Linked DNA regions of Homo sapiens: region 2 is linked to region 1. A link means that fine-mapping ties the variant in region 1 to the plasma level of a protein whose gene starts in the linked region. Region 1 holds a variant in brackets. A gene starts in the other region. All regions are shown on their reverse strands.

Region 1 (10,073 bases):
TGACAAGATTGATCTGGTTACTGCAGGAGAGCCAGCCTGGCAGTGTAACAAGGAAGGCTGGGGCTGGTTGCCTGTGGGAAGCCTTTGCAGTGTGACATGGCGAGGGCCTAACCCATGGAAGCATGGGAGTCCATGACCCACTAAGGGCAAAGGATAGACCAAGCTGGCTCTGAGATGTTGAGCCTTGGAGGAGCGGGGCCCAGGTGTTCTCTGATGAGGCATTCCACCATCAAGCTGTAATCTAGGCCATAACACATCCTCTAATTGCAATATTGCAAAAAATATATGGACTGTATGTGAACCCTGAAATTTACAAACTGTTAAAAATTTATGACCTATTTGGAAAAATTTGAATTCTAATTGGATTCGGTAATCTTAAGGTATTAATTCTTAACTCTCTAGGTGTGGTCATGGTACTGTGGTTTTAAGAGCCCTTATGTTTTAGAGAAACATATGAAATATATACAGATGAAATATATCTGGATTTGTTTCCAGTTATCCAGGTAGATAAGGGGAGAATGGGCTTAGCATAGATGAGGCAGGACTGTTTCTGAATTGTAAACTGTCCAAGCTGGGTGACATGGGGTTCATTCCACTCCTCTCTCTACATTGTATACATTTGAAATTTTCTGTAAAAACATTCTGGTCCTTGGATAATGCAGGTCCTACACCCTGGGCCTCAAAATTCCCAATCAGAAATCACGAGAGGCATTTTGAGCTGTGCCATGTTAATCTCTTGTTACCTTTCGAAACAGGAATTCTGACCACTTCTGTTTTGCCTAGAGCAGGAAAAACACATAGACAGGAAAGAAATAATGCCTTGGCTTTATTTAGAAAAACAAACTGTGAAAGACACGTGATCCTCCTGTATCACGATCATGGGAGGAGTCCAACCAACTGGAGAGGCGAAGTCAAAACTCAGAAGAGCAAAGGCAAAGTTTTAGCTGGAAATAAATGCTTCTTTTAGGAGAGTCACTCCCAGTGGAGGATTTCTGGCAGTGGAGCACTTGGCATGAGTGTGAAAGCTGACACTGAGTTGGAAAATGGTAGCCCAGGGTGTAGCGGCCAGCATAAGGCCAGCACTGTGCAGTCACATGTCACAGCTCAGGGAACAGAAAGGCCTGCTGTTGTCACCTCTGATATTGGTTGTCCCGGTGCCCACCCTCATGGCACCTCTATCTCTCACATGCCACAAAGACAGGAGGCTGCTCTGACAGTGTCCCCAGCTATGCAAGGCGGGGACACCCACTAGCCATTACATGCTGGGGGAGGGCCCTATGAACTTCCTTGGCAGGCCGTCTCCCAGGCTACAGGGCAGAAATCAGATTTCTTTTTCAATTAGTGCCCCCAAACAGAAACCATTTGCACACAGGTAAGCTAGAAAGCTAGGAGGGTACATTTTGAACCTGAGCAAGTGATCTCATTTTTCCTCCTCTTTTTTGAGGAGAAGAAATACATGAGGGAATTAAGGTGGGTGCACGTTCCCTGGGAAAGGAACAAGCATGAAACAGGTGTTGAGAGTTCAGCTTAGTAAACATGTGAGGGCCCACTCTGTGCCAGGCACTGTGGGAAGTGCAGCGATGGATGAGCCGTGGTCCTTGTCTTCAAGGACAGCGTGGGGAAGCCAGGAAATTCCAGGTGCACAAAATCTCCTGGATAAATACTGAAGGACACATAAGTCCTGTGACCCAAGCAAAGTAACTGTTACTTAGCCAAAGTCAAACTTCCGGCAAATCTCTTAAATCTCTATTTTTCACCCATAAAATGGTGCAATTCTGCCTTGCTTACCCCGTAAGGTTATAGAGTTATAAGGATCAAAGCTACTACAATATAATAACAATGAGGAGGAGGAGGAGGAGGCGAAGACAAGGCTTTCTTGACCTTGCTGACCTACAGACCTGTGACTGGTGCCCAAGGACGAACTCCGCTGTGGATGGCAGCCAGGACCAGGGCAGGTTCCTGATGCAGATGGCTGTCTGATCCCAGCCAGTCCTGGAGCACCGGTGCCCTGTGCCCTCATTCCCGAAGCTGGTTCCCCTGGGCACCTTGTCACATGCCCAGTAGCTGCCTTGACATGAGCAACCTTTCTGACTCATTCAAATTTGCCTGACAGATGGAGAAGGTGCTTAGTCCTAGTATTCTTAATAAATATCAGAGCTTAAGAGCCAGAAGGAACCTTCCAGAACATAGCTTCCACACACATCCCATCCCCACCACTACGCCCACCACCCCCACCATTTGCACGAAGGGCAATGGAGGCTCCAGCAGGGAACATAACCCACTGAAGTGTTGGGACAGCTGATGCTGGAATCTCATTCTCTGGACTCCCCTGGTCCAACATAGCTGCTTCTCTTTCCAAGACAGGTTTTGCCAACACCAACTCTACTGCCTTTAATATCCTTAGTCTTTCCTGCCCCCCAAATACCTTATTTGGTCCTAACTTCCAATAAAGCGTATTTAGAGCAAGAGAAAAAGGAAACATTCCCCAAGTCACATTTTCCCAAGCCCTCTGTTCTTTTTCACTCTTTGGGAAAATGTTTCCTAAATGCCCATGGGGGCACGTGACCCTACTTATAATATGGGTTCACAGAGACGAAGATGAGGGGTCCCTATCTTCACGAGGCTCTCGTTTAGCTATCAGTAAAATGCCCTCTTGATGAAACCTTTTTGAACCTCCACTGTGGGAAAAGAAAACCCTTCTAATCCAGTTCCCTTTAGTCATGTGTGCAAAGAGAAAGCTTCTCAATGATGCATCTCTTTACTTCCTGAGTTTTTTGCATTCATGCCTGGCTGGCAGCTTCCGCCCTGCTGGCTGTGGGCCCAGGCAGTATTGTGAGCACAGAAAAGGCTGGCAGCCTCACTTAGGGAGTCTTACCCTGTGCTGTGTCTCTTCCTGACCCTGGGGTTCTACATGAGGCCTCACGGTTGCTTCATTCTGCTCCCCGCTGCCCCTAAAGCATTCGGTTTGGCCCCCAGCTGAATAATTGTCTTACTCCAGTTTGGCCCTGGAGTGCCTGCTTTGATATCCTCCAGCCTCCCTCTTCCCTAGTCACCATCTTGGTGTAGTTGAGTTATTTTGAGGCCTTGAAAATAAGAATAGTAGAGCTCAGCGGAGACTCTGCCATGCCCAAGTGAGAAGACTGGTGTCCAGTGAAAGGTTGGACTGGAGATTCTGCAATTCCGTCATGCTGTAACATTTCTGAAAATGCATAGCCTAAGGTTGACAGCCTGAAAAATCAGTAGGGTTCCGATGTGTGTGTCCGGACCTAGAAGTAAGAACTAACTAAGCCTGGGACCAACGCCTCATAGCATTTGAAATGAACCTGGGTACCAAGTATCACTTCGGATTCTTCCCACTCTCAGATACGGTCCCCTAGTTAGAGAGCACGATGTAGGGGGTTGGGATTCTGTGGGGCCAATATAACATTTACACCCTTGTGAAACAGTGCAGGGGTCTACAGAAGAATTCCCAGAAGAGGTGGTGTTCCTTTCCCCTTTTCTCTATTTACCCACCTTCCTTGTGTTGAAATACTGATGAACGGACCCCCAGATGGCAAAGCTTGATCCCCAGCTCTGATAGAGCCCACAGGACACCCTGGGTCTACCCTAACGAGCCATGACATGCCAATTCTTTGCTTTTCTGGAGAAACCTTGGCCTGAAAGTCTGTTTAATTACCGTGGAGATAATCTTTTAAACATAGATTTACATTCTTTAAAGACTTTTTCCCTGTGGGAGTAGGAAAGTTCATCTGCACATAGCATGTTTATTTTCATTTCCAGGGGAGGAACTGCTATCTGGTAGTTAGCAAGAAGCTTGAGCCCTGGAGGAATTTCTTTTTTTAAAGTCTGTTCCTCTTCACTGATAGTGTGTCAATTATATTGTAATAATTAGTTTATAGTGTGGTCATATTTTTTTCCAGCTTAAACTCTGCACTTC[A/C]CTCTGTGATTCCAGGCCTATAATTATTTAACATTTGTCAATCATCCCTATCAGATTGGGTTCTATAGTTACTCTAAATGTGGGTATCAAGAGTCAATGTCCTCAGGGGTTTCTCTTCAGGAAGGTCATACTTGCAAAGCCAGCAGCCACAAAGACCTATTTAGGTTGGTGCAAAAGCAGTTGTGGTTTTTGCCTGAAAGGAATGGCAAAAACCGCAATTATTTTTGCACCAAGATAATACTTGGCACTGTGGTCAGTAAGACACTAATTTTTCCCACCTGGGGTGGCCCCGCAGATTTGCTAAATTCTTCCCCGCTAGAATGCCAGCTTGGATGAGCAGGGGCTCTATTGTATTCAACCTGGCAGCCCCAAGACCCAGAGTAATTCCTGGCTCATAATAGGTACTGGCTAAGCAGATGCTGAATTGCTGAAAGTCAACAGGTCTTGACGTGTGTGTCAAACAGGAACAATGTACAAAATAAAGCAGAGTTCGGTGGCCTTCTGGCTCTGGCCTGTGCAGCCCTAGTCCTTCTTTCCCCACATCACTTAAGAGCAGGTGGTCCTGAGTGGTTGCTGGACCTGATTCTGGAGGCCAAGACTCTGAGCCTTGAAGATTTACCTCCGGGGATTCAGAAAAGAGGAGAAAAGGAGTAATTGTATTGAACAGAGAATTAGAAGATAAGGAAAATCCCTTTGTGAGAAACTCTAAATCTTGAGCATGGATCTCTGTGTCCAGGTCCTGATGGGGAGAATAGCTGGTCCAAGAAGTACCCGTCGTGTGGGGGCCTGCTGCAGTCCCCCATAGACCTGCACAGTGACATCCTCCAGTATGACGCCAGCCTCACGCCCCTCGAGTTCCAAGGCTACAATCTGTCTGCCAACAAGCAGTTTCTCCTGACCAACAATGGCCATTCAGGTGAGGGAGAGGCCTTGGAGACCTGAGGGGTATGTCTGAGTCTCCCTCAGCTGCCAGGCCTGTCCTTTTCCATCTGGCAGGGAGGTGTTCCGTGGAAGCATCCAGGAGGAGGGGTGGGGCGGGGCGGGGGTGTCTTTGAGAGATTCCAGGAGCACTCTCTCCAGGGGATGCTGGAGGCTCTGGGCTCTGAGGATCCTGCCAGGGCCGCACTTCCCAGAAGAAGCACATCTCTCAGGATGGGGCAGGAGACCGGCCTGAGCACTGTAGTTCATTGGCTGTGCAGCTGGAGTGAATTCTGGACCATAAACGATTCAAGGAACCACACAGTTTGGCGGGGGGTGCCCAGGCTTTGGAGTCAGACCAACCTGGATTTGAACTCTGGCTTGACTGCTTACGAGCCATGAGAATCTAGGTGAGAATTTTAGTCTCCTTGAGCTTCCATCTGGAAATGGACATATTGATGGATACCGTGAAGACTGGAGATTATGTACGTTGGGGTCTGGCATACAGAGTGAAGTAAATGCTTCATAAATAGCAGTTATCGTTGCTGTTGCTATATAATTCTAAAGCTTGGAAGGTACTTCACTAAAGGTGTCTGATCCATCAATATGTAAATAAACACCCATCCGTTGGTCTAGTGTTAGCGTTTCTGGCATCACTTTCCAAGGTGAACCAAGAAGGTGCTGGTGCCACTGGAGTTGCTTTGGGGAAAAGGGAACATTCTCAGGGAAAGAGCCCAGGTGTCTGACCTTTAGGCTGCATCTCTGCTCCGCACCTCACTCCATCCACCTGCCTCTCTCTGGGCTCCAGGGGGTGGCAGCAGGGGTGGAGGGAGCATTGCCTACCTGACTGCTCTCTGGCAGTGCACAGCTGGCCGGGGCTCTGAAGGCTGCTCCTCCACTCCCCGCAGTGAAGCTGAACCTGCCCTCGGACATGCACATCCAGGGCCTCCAGTCTCGCTACAGTGCCACGCAGCTGCACCTGCACTGGGGGAACCCGAATGACCCGCACGGCTCTGAGCACACCGTCAGCGGACAGCACTTCGCCGCCGAGGTAAGTAGGGCTGCCAGTCTGGCAGAGGCTGCTCTGCAGTGGGTGGTGTGGCACCTTCTCGACCTGGCTGCTGTGCAGATAACACCAGAGCATGGGACAGGCTGCCTTCAGGCTCTCTGCCCCACCTCTGGCCCTGGCACAAGGGGCGCAGCCACTCCACTAGCCTGTAGCTCATCTGCACTGTCCTGGTCCCTTTCTTCTCCTGAACATGCTAAGTTTGTCCCTGTGTCTTTTACTGAGTGATGCTGCTGGGGAGGCAGTATTCCCAGGGTGGCCCAGTGGGACATACATGCCCTTCTTTTAGACATTGCCTTCCTATCTGTGCAGATAAAAATCTCCTGCTGACTCACACTGGGCTCACTGCTCCCCCAAACTTCTCAGCCTTTCTTCATATGTCATGCTGTTTGCATCATTTTGATGCTATCTTTCCCTCTCTGGGCATGGGTTGTGTTTAGAACATGGGGACATGGGTCTAGGGCCACCCTTCTACCTGGCCACAAGTCTAGGGGTACCTGGCAGTCTAATGTGCAGGGCATCACGGCAAGCAGACTCACTAGGGACAAGATGTCAGCCAGCACAGCATCGTGTCATGTTGCCTTGAGAAGCTACTCCGAAATGCCAAAAGAAAATTAGAAGACGGGCAGAGCATTTGTCCTATGCAATTGCAGGATGGGGTGGGGCAAGGAGGGGGTTGAGATGCTCCATTTTGGCACTCCAATAGCCCTGAACTGGGGGTGTGGCTCTGAATATTTACAGGGAAATACAAGCAGATAAATGCTGCTGACTGATCAGCCAGGGGAGTCCGTGGTAAATAGAGACCATTCCCCTCCAGTCATAACTGCTGAACTGCTTAATGTTTCAGACTAATCATAGGTCTACTTGCAAGCATGGAAGGGATAGGATCTGGTTCAATAGGATGGTACCACTGGAGGTTCACATATTTCAGAGCGGCCCTTCCCTGAAGCTCAAGAACTGAAATTTCCTCCAGGCTAATTGCAGTGTTGAGACTTCTGCTTCCCCCATGGGGAATAAAGAAGGTGTAAACCAAAAAGTGTCTGAGACTCAATCCATTTAGAAGTTTATTTTGCCAAGGTTAAGGACACATGCCCGGGAGACAGGGAGACAAGTCTGTGCCTTTCTACAAAGATGATTTTGAGGGCTTCAATATTTAAAGGGGAAAGGGCAGACACTGGGGAAAGAGGGAGAAATGTTTAAAAGGTGTGGGGAGGTAAGAGGCAAGAGGTCGCATTCTTCTGAGTTTTTGATCAGCCGTTCACATGTGAGAGAGGGGTAGAGGAATAGTCACTTGTGCATTCATCTAGCTCAGCGAATCTGCATTCTTACAAAATAAAACAGACATGGGCAGAGGAAGCAATTAGAAATGCATTTGTCTCAGGTGAGCAGAGGGATGACTTTGAGTTCTATCCTTTGTCCTGAACCCATGAAGATAAGTTATCCATTTACATTGTCACGGTGAAATTCAACAGAACTGTTTTAGGGTAAAGACCTTGCGGCCCACAGTGAATTTCCTAGTGGGCAAAATGTGAGGTGTGTTGCTTTTTTATCTTTGTAGCCGTCTTATTTAGGAATAGAATGGGAGGCAGCTCCCAGCTTGACTTTTCTCTTTGGCTTAGTGATTTGGGGGTCTCGAGATTTATTTTCCTTTCACAAAGGAGGTTAGGGTGTAGATTGGCAGGGTTTATGTGTTTTAAAATATTTCTACTTCTTGTATTTTCTGCTATTAAGTCACAGCATCAGACCAAGAGTCTGGTTAAGATGGACCATAAATGCCAATACTAGAGAAAAGGCATCAGGGTGTCCCTAAAGTGGGTCCTCTAAGGAAGGACCTTGGAAGTGTAGTGGTTCTTTGGGATGGAGTTCATATAAGAAGATTCTGGTGGGGCATGTTGGCTCACACCTATAATCCCAGCACTTTGGGAGGCTGAGACGGGTGGATCACCGGAGGTCAGGAGTTCGAGACCAGCCTGACCAACATGGTGAAACCCCATCTCTACTAAAAATGCAAAATTAGCCGGGCTTGGTGGCACATGCCTGTAATCCTAGCTACTCGGGAGGCTGAGGCAGGGGAATCGCTTGAACCTGGGAGGCGGAGGTTGCGGTGAGCCAAGATCACGCCATTGCACTCCAGCCTGGGCAACAAGAGCGAAACTCCATTAAAAAAAAAAAAAAAAAAAAAGATTCTTTCTATCTTAATCTCCTCAACAGGGAGCTCCTTTATGCTTGGATTAGTCTTCACTTCCTCTGAGCACAATAAGAAAAGTACAGACAAACCACAAGCTCAAAGGTCAGCTGTAAAAGGAAATAGGGGCTTAGGACCTCAGGGGTTTTAATCATATAGAATTCAGCTCTGTTTCTCAAAGTGATGCCAGGCCGAGATGGTGTGGGCAGTGTGGCAGACTAAGTCCTTTGAGGGGAAGATGGTGAAGTAGGAGCTCTGAAGAAATCCTTAATAGAGGACCACTTAAAAGAAGAAATAATTTGATATATAATTTTTTTTAAGTTAGAAGGAGCCACTTAAAGTTCGAAATGGGAAAATTAAGCTGTATTCAATAACATATGTTGAACTGTATTTATAAACACATGAGATGGAAAAGGATGAATGAAAAGAGAAAAGAAATAGAGTTAAAATCTCAATATGTCATAGTCTCAAGGACAAAGAACCAGCAAAAATGCATGGGTTGTGTAAACCAAAAATAAATTCTAAGCCCCCCACCCCACCCACCTGCCATCTGAATGGACCTCTCCTCTTGACCAAGGGCATTCCAAAGTTAACATGAAAACTAGTTCAGGCCATGATGGGAAGAGGGAGTTGGACATGACCCATTATACCCTCCTCCCTTTTGGAATTTAGGAAAAGCCCACATTCATTAACATCAACACAGACCTTAGGTCTGATCAGAAATATTTACAGTCTATTCTCTCTGAAGCCTGCTACTTGTATTCTTCCTCTGCATGATAAAATCTTGGTCTCTACAACCCCTTATTGGAACCCAGACATTCCTTTCTATTGATGATAACTCTCAACCGATTGCCAGTCAGAAAAAAGTTAAATCTACCTATGTCCTGGAAGCCTCCAATTTGAGTTTTCCTGCCCTTCCAGATCAAACCAGTGTATCTTGTACGTATTGATTGATGTATTATGTCTCTAAAATGTATCAAAACAAGCCATGCCCTGACCACCTTGGGCACATGTCCTTATCCTTGGCAAAATAAGGGGAGGGTCTGAGAGACCTAACCTAGTCTGGGGGGCTGAGGGGGCTGGGGTTCTGTCCTCACAGTTGGAGTCAAGTCTTCTGCAGAAGCGACAGGCTCCCATGAGTCGCTTATCTCCTAATGGGTGGCTTCTCCCCCACTGCAGCTGCACATTGTCCATTATAACTCAGACCTTTATCCTGACGCCAGCACTGCCAGCAACAAGTCAGAAGGCCTCGCTGTCCTGGCTGTTCTCATTGAGGTAAGAGATATTTAAAAGGTTCTTAGGTGAAATTTGAAGCAGGGATGAGATTGGGATTCCACCTTTTGTTCCATGCATACCTGTTGATAATCAGCTGTTCCTGTATCGACTCCGTGTCAACTCCAGAGCAGGGGGTATCCTCCTGTAGTGCACCTTCTCTCTTGGCCTGGAGGCAGCACTTTCTGTGCCTGGGCAGCAGAAATGGGGAATGTTCTTTGGTCCGTTGGAAAAACGGGCCCCAACATCTAGCCCTGTTGCATAAGGCATGGAATTGCCCAGTTGGGGAGGACCTGTGCTGGAAAGGGATCATCAAACTCCATCTGCCCCATCAGATGCCTGAACTCTTGATACAACTCCTGCCATCCAAGCTCCTCTAGATCCAAGGGACCTCTAGATCAGTGGTCCCCAACCTTTTTGGCACCAGGGACCAGTTTCATAGAAGACAATTTTTCCACGGACCATGGACCAGGGAGGGAGATGGTTTTGGGATGAAACTGTTCCACCTCAGATCATCAAGCATTAGTTAGATTCCGTAAGGAATACACAGCCTAGATCCCTTGCATGCGCAGTTCACAATAGGGCTTGTGCTCCTATGAGAATGGGAGGCCTCTGCTGATTTGACAGGGGGCGGAGCTCAGGCTGTAATGCTTGCTTGCCCGCTGCTCACCTCCTGCTGTGCGGCCCAGTTCCTA
Region 2 (10,073 bases), not on the chromosome of region 1:
AGGATATAATCGTATTTCAAAGCATTGCTTTATGCAATATTTGTTAATGATAAAGTGAAAAATAGCAACTTTATAGTGGACTGGTATAGATACGCTGCAATGGCTGGGGCCAGGCCACTCCTGGGAGGTGGGCTCCTGAAATGTGATCATGGACAGCAACTTCATGTAAAAGTATCCTCTCACCTTCTTGAGAGTGAAAGACTGCCTGGAAAGAGATGCTCACCATCCCCGCTGAGCACATTTCCAGCCTACCCCACCTGAATGCAGCCCCCAACTGAACCTAACAAGACCAGCAGAAGAGCCGCGGACAGCTCCAGAGTCATAAGAATCCACACATCATGTTGCTTTCAGCCAGGAAGATTCGGGGTGGCTTCTGATGCAGCAGTAGGTAACTGATGTGTACAGGATGCTCTGAACATCCCTCCCAGCAGAGACCCACAGTCCATCCCATGTGAGGTCCAGAGAGGGAGAAATCTCCTCCTCCGTAGACTGCATGGTTTCTGCTGGTGTCTACAACTGCCATGCAACTCGTGGAGCGCAGCCCTTTCCTTCCGAATCCAACCTACATTTCATGCTCTCCATGAGGGGCAGGTCTGTGGGCAAAATGATGATTGTAGCAATAGACATGCTGAACTGGTGGTGCCTGCAGGAAGTCCAGTGATGACGTCATGGACAGGGGGATGAGGAGCTTCACTGCTGGAAGCCTGGCCTTAGTTGAGATAACTCAAGACAATTGCAATGGGGTCAACACTCTCACAATAAGACAGAGTGAGCTCAAGTCCAAATATAAAAAGAGTAAGTGGGGATTTATAGCCAAGGAGCAGGGTGTGGAGGTTAGTGAAGAAAAAATTACTAAGCAGAGACATCAAAGGTAGGGGTTTCTGGCTGAACTGACCAAACAGGATTCTTGCTAAAGGCAGGACACAGCCTTAGACATCAAAGCTGAGGGATGAGGAACTTGATCAGATGTCAAGGGTGATCAGACCCCAAGGACAGCAGGATTCTCCCTAAAAGGAAGCAGGATTCTTTCCTAAAACTGAGCAATGCAGACCTGGCAGGTAGGAGCTGGAGACCAAGGTTGAGGCCTAGTGAAGAAGGCTCAGAGGAGCCTTAAAGTTTCGTTAGAGAGTCTTTTCACTGGATCCAGCTCCTCTGTGACAGGAGGAGAGGGCAGGCAGGGCCACAAGAGCAGGCAGGCTGTCCTGATGGCCTCTGGCTCCAGCTCCAGCACCCACTGATTGAGTGTAACAGGATTCCAGGCAGGAACAGGAACCACTCTCCACAGCCACTGCAGTCTGCTAAAGGAATTGATATTTAAGGTTAGACAAACAGTGACAGGGAAGTCCCAGCAGTGACCTGAATGGGGATTAGAAAGGAAACTCTCACCACACAGAGATGCCAAGGGGATTGCTCTCCCCTCAGAGCCATCTGTATTCTCCTGGGCCAGGCCCCTGCAGGCTGGGACCAGGGAGTTGGGGGAAGTCCCTGGGTGCATCAGCAAGCAACCCGAGTTCCCAAGGAACTCTCCCTGTCCTCTCCACTCGGCTGTGGTTCTCTAGCCATGGCTCTGCTAGGAAGAATGTACTCCTTGAGAAAATAAATAGTAACCTTGCAATCTAAAATCCTAAGTGCTGTTTACACATTGATCCCTGAGCAGGAAACTTCCCAAGGATTCTCTTTCCCTCCATAAAGGGCCAAACTCTCAGACCTCAGATCCTGGGCTCTGTACGCCCTTTTCCTGTAGGGGCTTTGGGCATGCTTCACAGCAAGTACCAGAGTTCATAATAATGTGGCCTCATCCCCATCAGAGCCCAGATGCTTACCAATGGTGGCCAATGGTCCAGGAGTATCTCAGGTCCCCCACAGTTGGGAGCAGGGAGGGGGAAGGAGGAAGGGTGTGCATAAGGGACAAGCTTGACCCCAGAGAACTCGCAGCACTCCATAAAGGAGGATTCTGGGCTTCCCCTTTGAGAAGCCAACAAATCCCGTGGCTGCTCAGTCCCATCTCCTATCACAGACACTGAATGTTAATTGCTCAAAACCCGGATGTGCAGAATCTCAACTCTTGGCCAACTTGATCTAACCACTTGCACTTTAGGTGATGTTTATGCCCTTAGGTATTTATTGGTTATAATATTGTTTAGTGTTTCCCTTTACTGCTTATTTATTATAGAGAACTTCTGTCACTCACCTAATTTCTCACTCTACTAATTCAATCATGGGATCAAGTTACACACGCAACCTGGGAGAACACGGCTTTCTCTTTCATCCACTGGCAGAAAGGAAACATGCCCCCTCCTGGGCAACTGGACTCCTCCAGATTACGAAGGTGCTGGAGGCCCCAGGCTTGGTCCTGAGTCCATTGTTTATCTCTGGGTCCCTGCCAGCCTGTCATTGGAGCTGTAAGCTATAGGAACTAAGTCTCCATCTTTTTTTGAGATGGGATCTCACTGTGTTGCACAGTGTGGTCTGGAACACCTGGGTTCAAGAGATCCTCCTGCCTCAGCCTCAAGAGTAGGTGTACAGGCATGCCATAACACTGGGCTATTGTAAATTTTAACCACACTTAAATGTCACTGCAGAATCAAACTTATCTTGCTGGTTTTGAACCACCAGACACCACCATTTACAAAGCAGCTCACCTTTCCATATGCATGACACATAGAGAAGGCAAAACATTTTCCCAAGGTCACCCAGCAGCTGGAGCAGCTGTCCATCTACCCTAACCTTCCACTTACCATCACCCATACTGGATGCATCTCTTGTAGTTCCTGAGAGTGCCCTACATGGGGGTCTGACTACAAAGATTAGAGTGGCCACTGTATCAGGCCTGTTGACCCTCCCTATAGCTCATTCCAGTGTCCTGACAGAGGATGACCACTGGCGGTGGCATCACATACAGGGAAATAGGCCAGCACTCCAGCTCCCACCCCATACTCCACCCACCACCATATGCCTGTTATGTGGATGACCTGCATCTCCTTCCTAATGATAAAAGATAGGAGAGATTTGTATGTATTTCAGCTTACCCTCTGCACAACACATCCTCCTGAGAGTTGAGACCTAGCGGCCAGGGAAGGTGGGAGCCACAGAGGAGACCCAACTCCCACACTTGGGAGATGACCATTCTGCCCACAAGCACCTGGCCAGGGACTGCCCTCTCTTTCCCTTCTCTGGGAATCTCCCCCAATTTCCTGTCTAACTAGGAGGCATCACGTGCAGCCCTGCTTGAAGACCTTCCCTCCCTCACCCAGCAGTAAACACTATCCCTGGGCCACCTGCTGTATCTGCTGGAGTGCATGGCTTTTCTAGGGGTGCTGGATTCACAGTGGGGTGCAATGGTCACTGGGCCTTGGGTAAAAAGGTCCCCTGTCCTCATACTGAACATGAGCACCCATGAGTAATATTGTTCCCGCTGTCGGGTTCCTGCTGATGCAGCCCCAGCCATGGCGGAGCCCCAGGATTATAGCAGGTCTGGGCTGATCCTGGCCGACCCTCACCTCCACCACTCCCAGGAGAGTCCTCTGGGTGTCCTGCTAAGGCCCAGGGTTTCCTGGTGTTTCTGGCCAAGCCTGCCACCTCGCCATAAGGGCATTTGCCGCAGGATCACCTTCAGGCATGGAGGGGGGGTTGAGAGAACAAAGGGAGCAGCTGTCTGTTCAGAGCCTCCTTCCACCCTCCCTACTCCTGAAGTCACATTCCAGTCCAGGCCCACAGCATCCCGAGCTGGGGGCTTTGTCAGCCCACAGGGCACCCAACTGACCACATCCTCTCAGTCTGTGGAGAAGGAGAACTCTCAATCCTGGCAATGAAGCCACGCTGAGCAAAGGACGAAGACACACCTGGGCTCTCTCTGCAGGATTCCATTCCTGGGAAGCTCAAGGACAGGCAACAAAGGAGTCCACAGGACCAGATGTGGGCTGCCAGGGTCGGGTGGGCATGAGGGTGGGCTTCAGAGGCAGGAGGAAACCATCTGGGGTGAGGCAGATATCACAGGTGTGGACAAAGTGGTAACACAAGTGTATGCATTTATGAAATCCCCCAGATTGGGCACATACAATTAGGCATTTTATTGTGTGTAAATTCTACCTCATTCAATGTAATTTTTAAAATATTACATGAGTTTTCCAAGCAGTGTACAGAGGACCAGTGCTGGCAGCACGTCTCCCAGAGGGGAGGAGCAAGAGAGGCTCTTGGGCTCCCACATTCATCCTGTGGCTGCTGCTCCTTCTCCTGACACCCCCACCACCTGCCAGGGGTCTCCCTGCGCCTTCCACCTGGACACACCCACAGTTACCGTGAGACTCCAGGTCGTTCCCTTCCCTGCTCACACCCCCTCCAGGAGCTTCCTCTTCCTGGAGCAGGCATGCCCAGCCTTGCCTCAGGGCCTTTGCACTGACTATTCCCTGCTGCCTGGGGCTTCTCAACCTTTCCGGTCTCTTAGAGACTTCCCTGACCAGGGTCCAGTAGCACCCACCCTCTCTCTAACTGAGCGACTATAATTCCCTGATCTAAATTGTTGATCACCACTCTGCATCCTCCCACACACCCTAATGGCTGGGCTATGCAGTACCACAGCCACCAGCAGCCACTCGTGGCCACAGGGCACTTGAAATGGGGCTAGTCCACAGTGACGCTTGGTCTAACTGTAAAAAATACACAGGGAACTTCAAGACATTACACTCACACAAAAGAATGTAAACTAGCTCCTTAAGAATAGTCCTGAAGTGTTGAAGTATTTTGGATATATTAGGTTAAAGTAGAAATACCAAAATTACTTTCAGCTGTATCTTTTAACTTTTTCAAATGTGTTTTAAATTGCTCCTGGGTTTCTGTCACATCTCTGTTGGATGGCAGCTCTGCAAGTTCATGTCTACGGCTCTATTGCCCAGACTGCTTGGTGCAGGGGGAAGCTGGTGACAGGTTTGTTTATTGAATAATGAGGAGTTATGAAACGAGAACCCAGTGAACTTTACCCAAAGGTTAATTACTTTATGTTTGGCAAAGAAGTTCCCCAGAAGAGGGCATGGACAAGGTCATCCCGGAGCTTCTGAAACAGCTCCCTGCCCCAGGAATTCCCAGACCATGACCACGTGCTCCTGGATGCCCCTGACATCTGAAGACTTTAGAAGGCCAAGCCCTGTATTTCTCCCTTTCCTGTGGACATAGGTGGTCACCAGGTTTCACAGCCCAGGGAGCGGTGTCACCTCTCTGGAATCCAGAGTGAGCCAAGCTTTAGAGCACTGAGGAAGAGGGGCAGGGCTGTGGGGAGGTTGCGGTCAGGACAGGAGTGGGGAGGAGGATGAGGAGGAGGCATGGGAGGAGCGAAGGGAACTTAGGGAGGGAGGGAGGTGGTTGGGGGTGGAAAGGGAGATAGAGACAGAAGAGGAGGGGTAGAAAGAGGAGGAGGAGCCAGGGGCGGGGCCAGGGAGCAGGTGGGGTTGGGGGACACCCAAGTAGGATAAATGCACAGCTAGCTTCTGGCCTGGGCTTCCTGCCTCAGCCTTCTGCTGCTTTGCTCTCTGGGAGATCCAGCTCCTTGCTCTGTGTCCCAGTAGAACATGATGTGGCCCATGCACACCCCACTGCTGCTGCTGACTGCCTTGATGGTGGCCGTGGCCGGGAGTGCCTCGGCCCAATCTAGGACCTTGGCAGGTGGCATCCATGCCACAGACCTCAATGACAAGAGTGTGCAGTGTGCCCTGGACTTTGCCATCAGCGAGTACAACAAGGTCATTAATAAGGATGAGTACTACAGCCGCCCTCTGCAGGTGATGGCTGCCTACCAGCAGGTGCGTGCTACCACCACCCTGGGGGTCCTGAGTCCCAGCTGGGTTTTTTGCCTCACCCCCCAGAGCACTCCCAGCAAATCAACATTATCTAAACCGCAGACTCATTCAGCTTTCTCTGACTGTCTGCTGATGGTCTTCATGCCCTAGGACACTCCTTGGCCGTGAGTGCATGAGTTCAGCCCTGTCCTGTCCCCTCGGCCTCTTTTAACCTGCAGCAGCCACTGTGTCTGTACCATGACTGTGGCATTTCCCAGGGTCCAGCAGGTGTGGATGGAGACTGTGCTGACTCTGGGTGGGCTTGATGCTGCTCAGGATGAGATCCAGGCCACGAGGTTCATCTTCCTCCCTGAGTCCTCTCCACAGGGGCCACACGGGAACCTGACTCCTTGTCCTGGATAGCCCCGCTTCCCTCCCAAGTCACGCCCCTGGGCACAGCCCGTTATGGCTAGTGGCCTTCACTCTCAGGCTGGCTGACCACCCCCTACAGCCCAGGACAGCTGAGTTCCTGCTGGGGTAGAGCATGCCTGACCCTGCCTCTGCCAGCTAACGCAGAGTTAGACCTCAGCAAAATGAGGACAGCAATCACCCAGCAGAGTGAAGGAGGTGGTTGGGTCCAGAGGGAGGAAGCTTCAGCAGGGCTACCGAGCCCAGCTTGACCTACGTCCCATGGCAGAGCAGCAGTGACACAGCGACCACAGGGCTATATGGCCTGCCAGCCTTTAGAGCTCCTCCACCTTCTCTTGGAAAGTCAGAGGAGTCCAGACCAGCCCTGTTTCTCCTCCTGCAGCCCTCTCCCTGCACAGGAGGGGCATTCCCTGGTGCTGTGGTCCCTGCTGGCCTGCACTCCCTCTTAAGTGTGTCACTCACTGGGAGTGAAGCACAGAATGATGTAGATCGTTGGGCCCTGGAGCCTATTTTACAGAGCAGCAGACTGACACCGGAGGGATCACAGGACTTCCATGTGGTTCTACAGGACTTGTGTGTGGTTCCACAGGGCAAGGTCTAGCACCCTGGTCCCAGGGTCCCTCATCCCATGCTTCTCCACAGTTCTGACAAGTCATGTTTTGGGGCGGCACTGTGCAGGGAAAGCATTCAGTTCTCTTCTGAAGTTGCAACCCTAAGACATGCAGGTGTGTGACTCACTTTAGAAATATTGCCTTGAAAATCACACCTGGAATGGAGGCATGCAGGAGGCAATGTTTATTGGCCTAAAACATCAATGTATGTGAGCATCTCATCTCCTACTGAGAAATGAGGAAAAATACCTCTGGGTTAAATGGCAGGAATGAGATGCTCTGTGGACTGAATGCCAGGAGCTGGAAGTTAGCTGAAATTTCATCATCAGGTGGCAGCCTTCCTAGGATGGGACCAGTGTCCCTGCCCCCTGAGCACAGGTAGCAGAATTCAGTTAATCCTTTGCTGTGGGAAAGAGCATTCACTTGGTGCTTAGACCCTGCCCTGCAAGCCTGGTGCCAGGACTGTTTCTTTGTCCCACCCTGGCTGGTTCCCCAGAGCTGTGCCTTCTGTTCCTGAATCCAGTGAAGGGGGTTTTAGGCCCTGGCTTCCATCTGCCCTGCCCCTGCTTCTCTTTCTACTGGGCTGCATGAGACAGCTTGCTTGAGATACCCAGAGAAAACAAGTTACTAGGAAGGACTGGGACACACTACCACTGCCAGCCAGCAGGAGAAGGTGGCTTGTGTGCCTTTTGGGTGACAGTGTGGGCATGAAGCCCCAGGCAAGCCCAGTGACTCAGTCACAGTGAAGTGCCTGCGTGTGCATGAAACTGACAGCATGCTGCCCCTGCTTCCTGCTCTTCCACGCGTGTAGATCGTGGGTGGGGTGAACTACTACTTCAATGTGAAGTTCGGTCGAACCACATGCACCAAGTCCCAGCCCAACTTGGACAACTGTCCCTTCAATGACCAGCCAAAACTGAAAGAGGTATGTGCCTGATGTGGGTCAGGGGCATCAAGTACCGCAGAGCAGTGTGTGCATGTGTGTGTGTGTATGTGTGTGTGCACGCATCTGTACTCCTGCACATGCTTTGGAGGGCATGTGTGCATGTGTGCAGATATTTGTGGGGCCACGTATGCAAGGATGTATTCATGTGCATGGGAGGATGCATGTGTGTTTGGCACACATGTGCAGATGTGTATTGTGAAGTCAATGAATGTGTTTGTGCATATGGAGTTTTGTGTATGCATGAATGAATGTGTGGGATGGTGTACACATGTGGCTATGCATGTAGAAAGATGCATATGTGTGCATACATGAGGAAGATGCACAGGAGTGTGTGTGTGCATGTGTGTGGATGTGTGAAGGAGTATGTGGGTTCATGCATATATTCGTTTGGGTGAGGGTTGCTGTGAGTTAATATAGATGCCTATGTGTGTGCAGATGGAGTGGTGTGGATAGGGGTGATGAATTTGTTTTGCTAGGAAGACTTTAGCTTGGTAATGGTTACTGGGAGGTCAACTCTGCCTGCTTTGGGGTGTTGTCTGTTGGACTGGAGGAAGAAGCTGCTGGGCTGGGTTCTGGTCAGAAAGAAGGGGCTCTGTCTAACCCCAGCCTCAGGCACCTGCCTGCAGCCACAGCCACTCTGAGCACATTAGAAGGAATTAAATGCCTGTTAGCTGAGAAGCCCTGGACCTGCCCCAGCTCACCCAACATCAGCCTCTCCAAGAACCCAGGATTTCTTTCGAGGTCTCTGCTCAAGGCAGAGCCACACTCTCCTTGTCATCTCCTCACCACCTCGGGCACTTTGAGTTGCAATTTCCAGTTCCCTGGGTTCTTCCCTCTGGCCCCTCTTAGTGCTGGCCTGGGTGCTGGAGGTGGAAGGAGCTGGAGGCAGTGAGCTGCCTCCCCTGTCCTGCACCCCTGAGGCTCCCAAGGCCTTGCACAGGCTGCTCCTCATAGGGCTGCGCTGGGACAGGAATCCTGCAGGCTGGGGTGAAGGCCCAATGTCACCTGGTGACTTGGAGCCTTGGGAGGGGCAATGGAACAGTCACTGCCCAGTTGGGCTCAGTGCCCTGGAACTCGGCAGGGGTAGGTTGGGGTCAGGGGGCAGTGTCTCATCTCCAACCATTTTCACCCCCATTCTGATGTCCCATTCCTGGGCATCTTTGGCTTTAACTGTAACCCACAGTCATTTTCTCCATCTCTTTCTTTTCACAGGAAGAGTTCTGCTCTTTCCAGATCAATGAAGTTCCCTGGGAGGATAAAATTTCCATTCTGAACTACAAGTGCCGGAAAGTCTAGGGGTCTGTGCAAGGCCTGTCACACTGACCACCTCCTACTCCCACCCCCTGTAGTGCTCCCACCCCTGGACTGGTGGCCCCCACCCTGGGGGAGGTCTCCTCATGCGCCTGCACCAGGAGACAGACACAGAAGGTGGCAGGAGGCCTTTGTTGCTCAGCAGGAGGCTCTGCCCTTGCTCCTTCCTTCTTGCTTCTCATAGCCCCAGTGTGCAGTGCACACTCTCCCACCTCCTGCAATTAAACAGTAGCATTGCCTCCCTCTGAGTTCTTGGCTGTTTGGGGATGTACACACAGGCAGGGTTTCTGCAGTTCCTTTATGAAGCCTCCTTGTTCTGCTGGCCCCAGAAGTTGGGCTGCTGGTTTGGTCTGAGCTCCTGGTCAGACCAGGAGGAGGGGGCTGGCTGTGTCCACAGGCAGGGGCCAGGCCTCAGTGGAGCTCGCCAGGCCGTGGATTCCATCTGTGCTTGCAGAGTTGAGCAGACTCCAGGGACTGAGCTGCTCTCATCAAATCCCCTAGACACTAAATAAATAGCGATCGATGTCTGCTTCTTTCCACAAGAGACTTTAGGCCCTTACATGGAAACAAGTCCAAAAGTGTGTATGTGTATGTGTAACTGATTGGGAGAAATGCCAGCCAGACCAAAGATGGGCAAGATCTCACAGAGAAAACAGTGCCTGCTGTCATCTATCCTGGGAAGGTGTGCCCCAGGGTGGGAGGTTTTGTCAATTCACACCCACCGGCCCATTCTCTGGACTTGAAGTTTTAAAAAGTCCTCATGTCAAACTTTATATTAGGGTTAGAGAAGTTAAAACACAAATGGGACTGGCATGAAGTGGACTGTTTTTTTCCAAGGATGATGTTCCAATTAATAAAAAAAACTTAGTGTCATCATGATTCATAGAATAGTAGATATTTGTGCCTCAAGCAGGAGGCTACACTCCTAAGTCACATGGCCCCAAGCCCACACGGTCCTTCTCTTTGCTATTTTAGTTCAAAGAGAAGGGGGTGCAGCCCTCAGGACAG

Alleles and levels. Alleles are on the strand shown, and positions count from the first base shown. The strength of an association depends on the size of the effect and on how common the allele is.
For the plasma level of the protein whose gene starts at base 5,490 in region 2, allele C in region 1 goes with a lower level than allele A (weak association).

Evidence for each region. A credible set is the group of variants that fine-mapping cannot tell apart. PIP is the chance, under the fine-mapping model, that this variant and not a neighbour inherited with it causes the effect. Protein levels are from antibody-based Olink assays in UK Biobank. Linkage for the fine-mapping came from a reference panel and not from the study's own genotypes, which makes the PIPs less certain.
Region 2: CST5 starts here. The variant in region 1 is the best candidate, but not a certain one, in a credible set for the plasma level of the CST5 protein (UK Biobank, PIP 0.52).

What each region holds. Positions count from the first base shown.
Region 1 is chr15:63,341,310-63,351,382 of GRCh38, reverse strand. CA12 (carbonic anhydrase 12) reads left to right here. Exons shown (of 11, transcript NM_001218.5): 3 at 4,674-4,853; 4 at 5,764-5,906; 5 at 9,286-9,381. LOC124903506 (a long non-coding RNA gene) reads right to left here. Exons shown (of 3, transcript XR_007064676.1): 2 at 9,462-9,569; 3 at 6,973-7,245. Among named protein-coding and RNA genes, the nearest start is that of CA12, 36 kb to the left of the region's middle. RefSeq lists a cis regulatory region at 4,945, an enhancer at 4,861-5,030 and a silencer at 5,786-5,973. The variant A/C (reference allele first, on the strand shown) is at 3,938.
Region 2 is chr20:23,875,165-23,885,237 of GRCh38, reverse strand. CST5 (cystatin D) reads left to right here and starts at 5,490. Exons shown (of 3, transcript NM_001900.5): 1 at 5,490-5,792; 2 at 7,620-7,733; 3 at 8,967-9,304. The coding sequence starts at 5,562. The coding sequence ends at 9,050. RefSeq lists an enhancer at 5,168-5,997.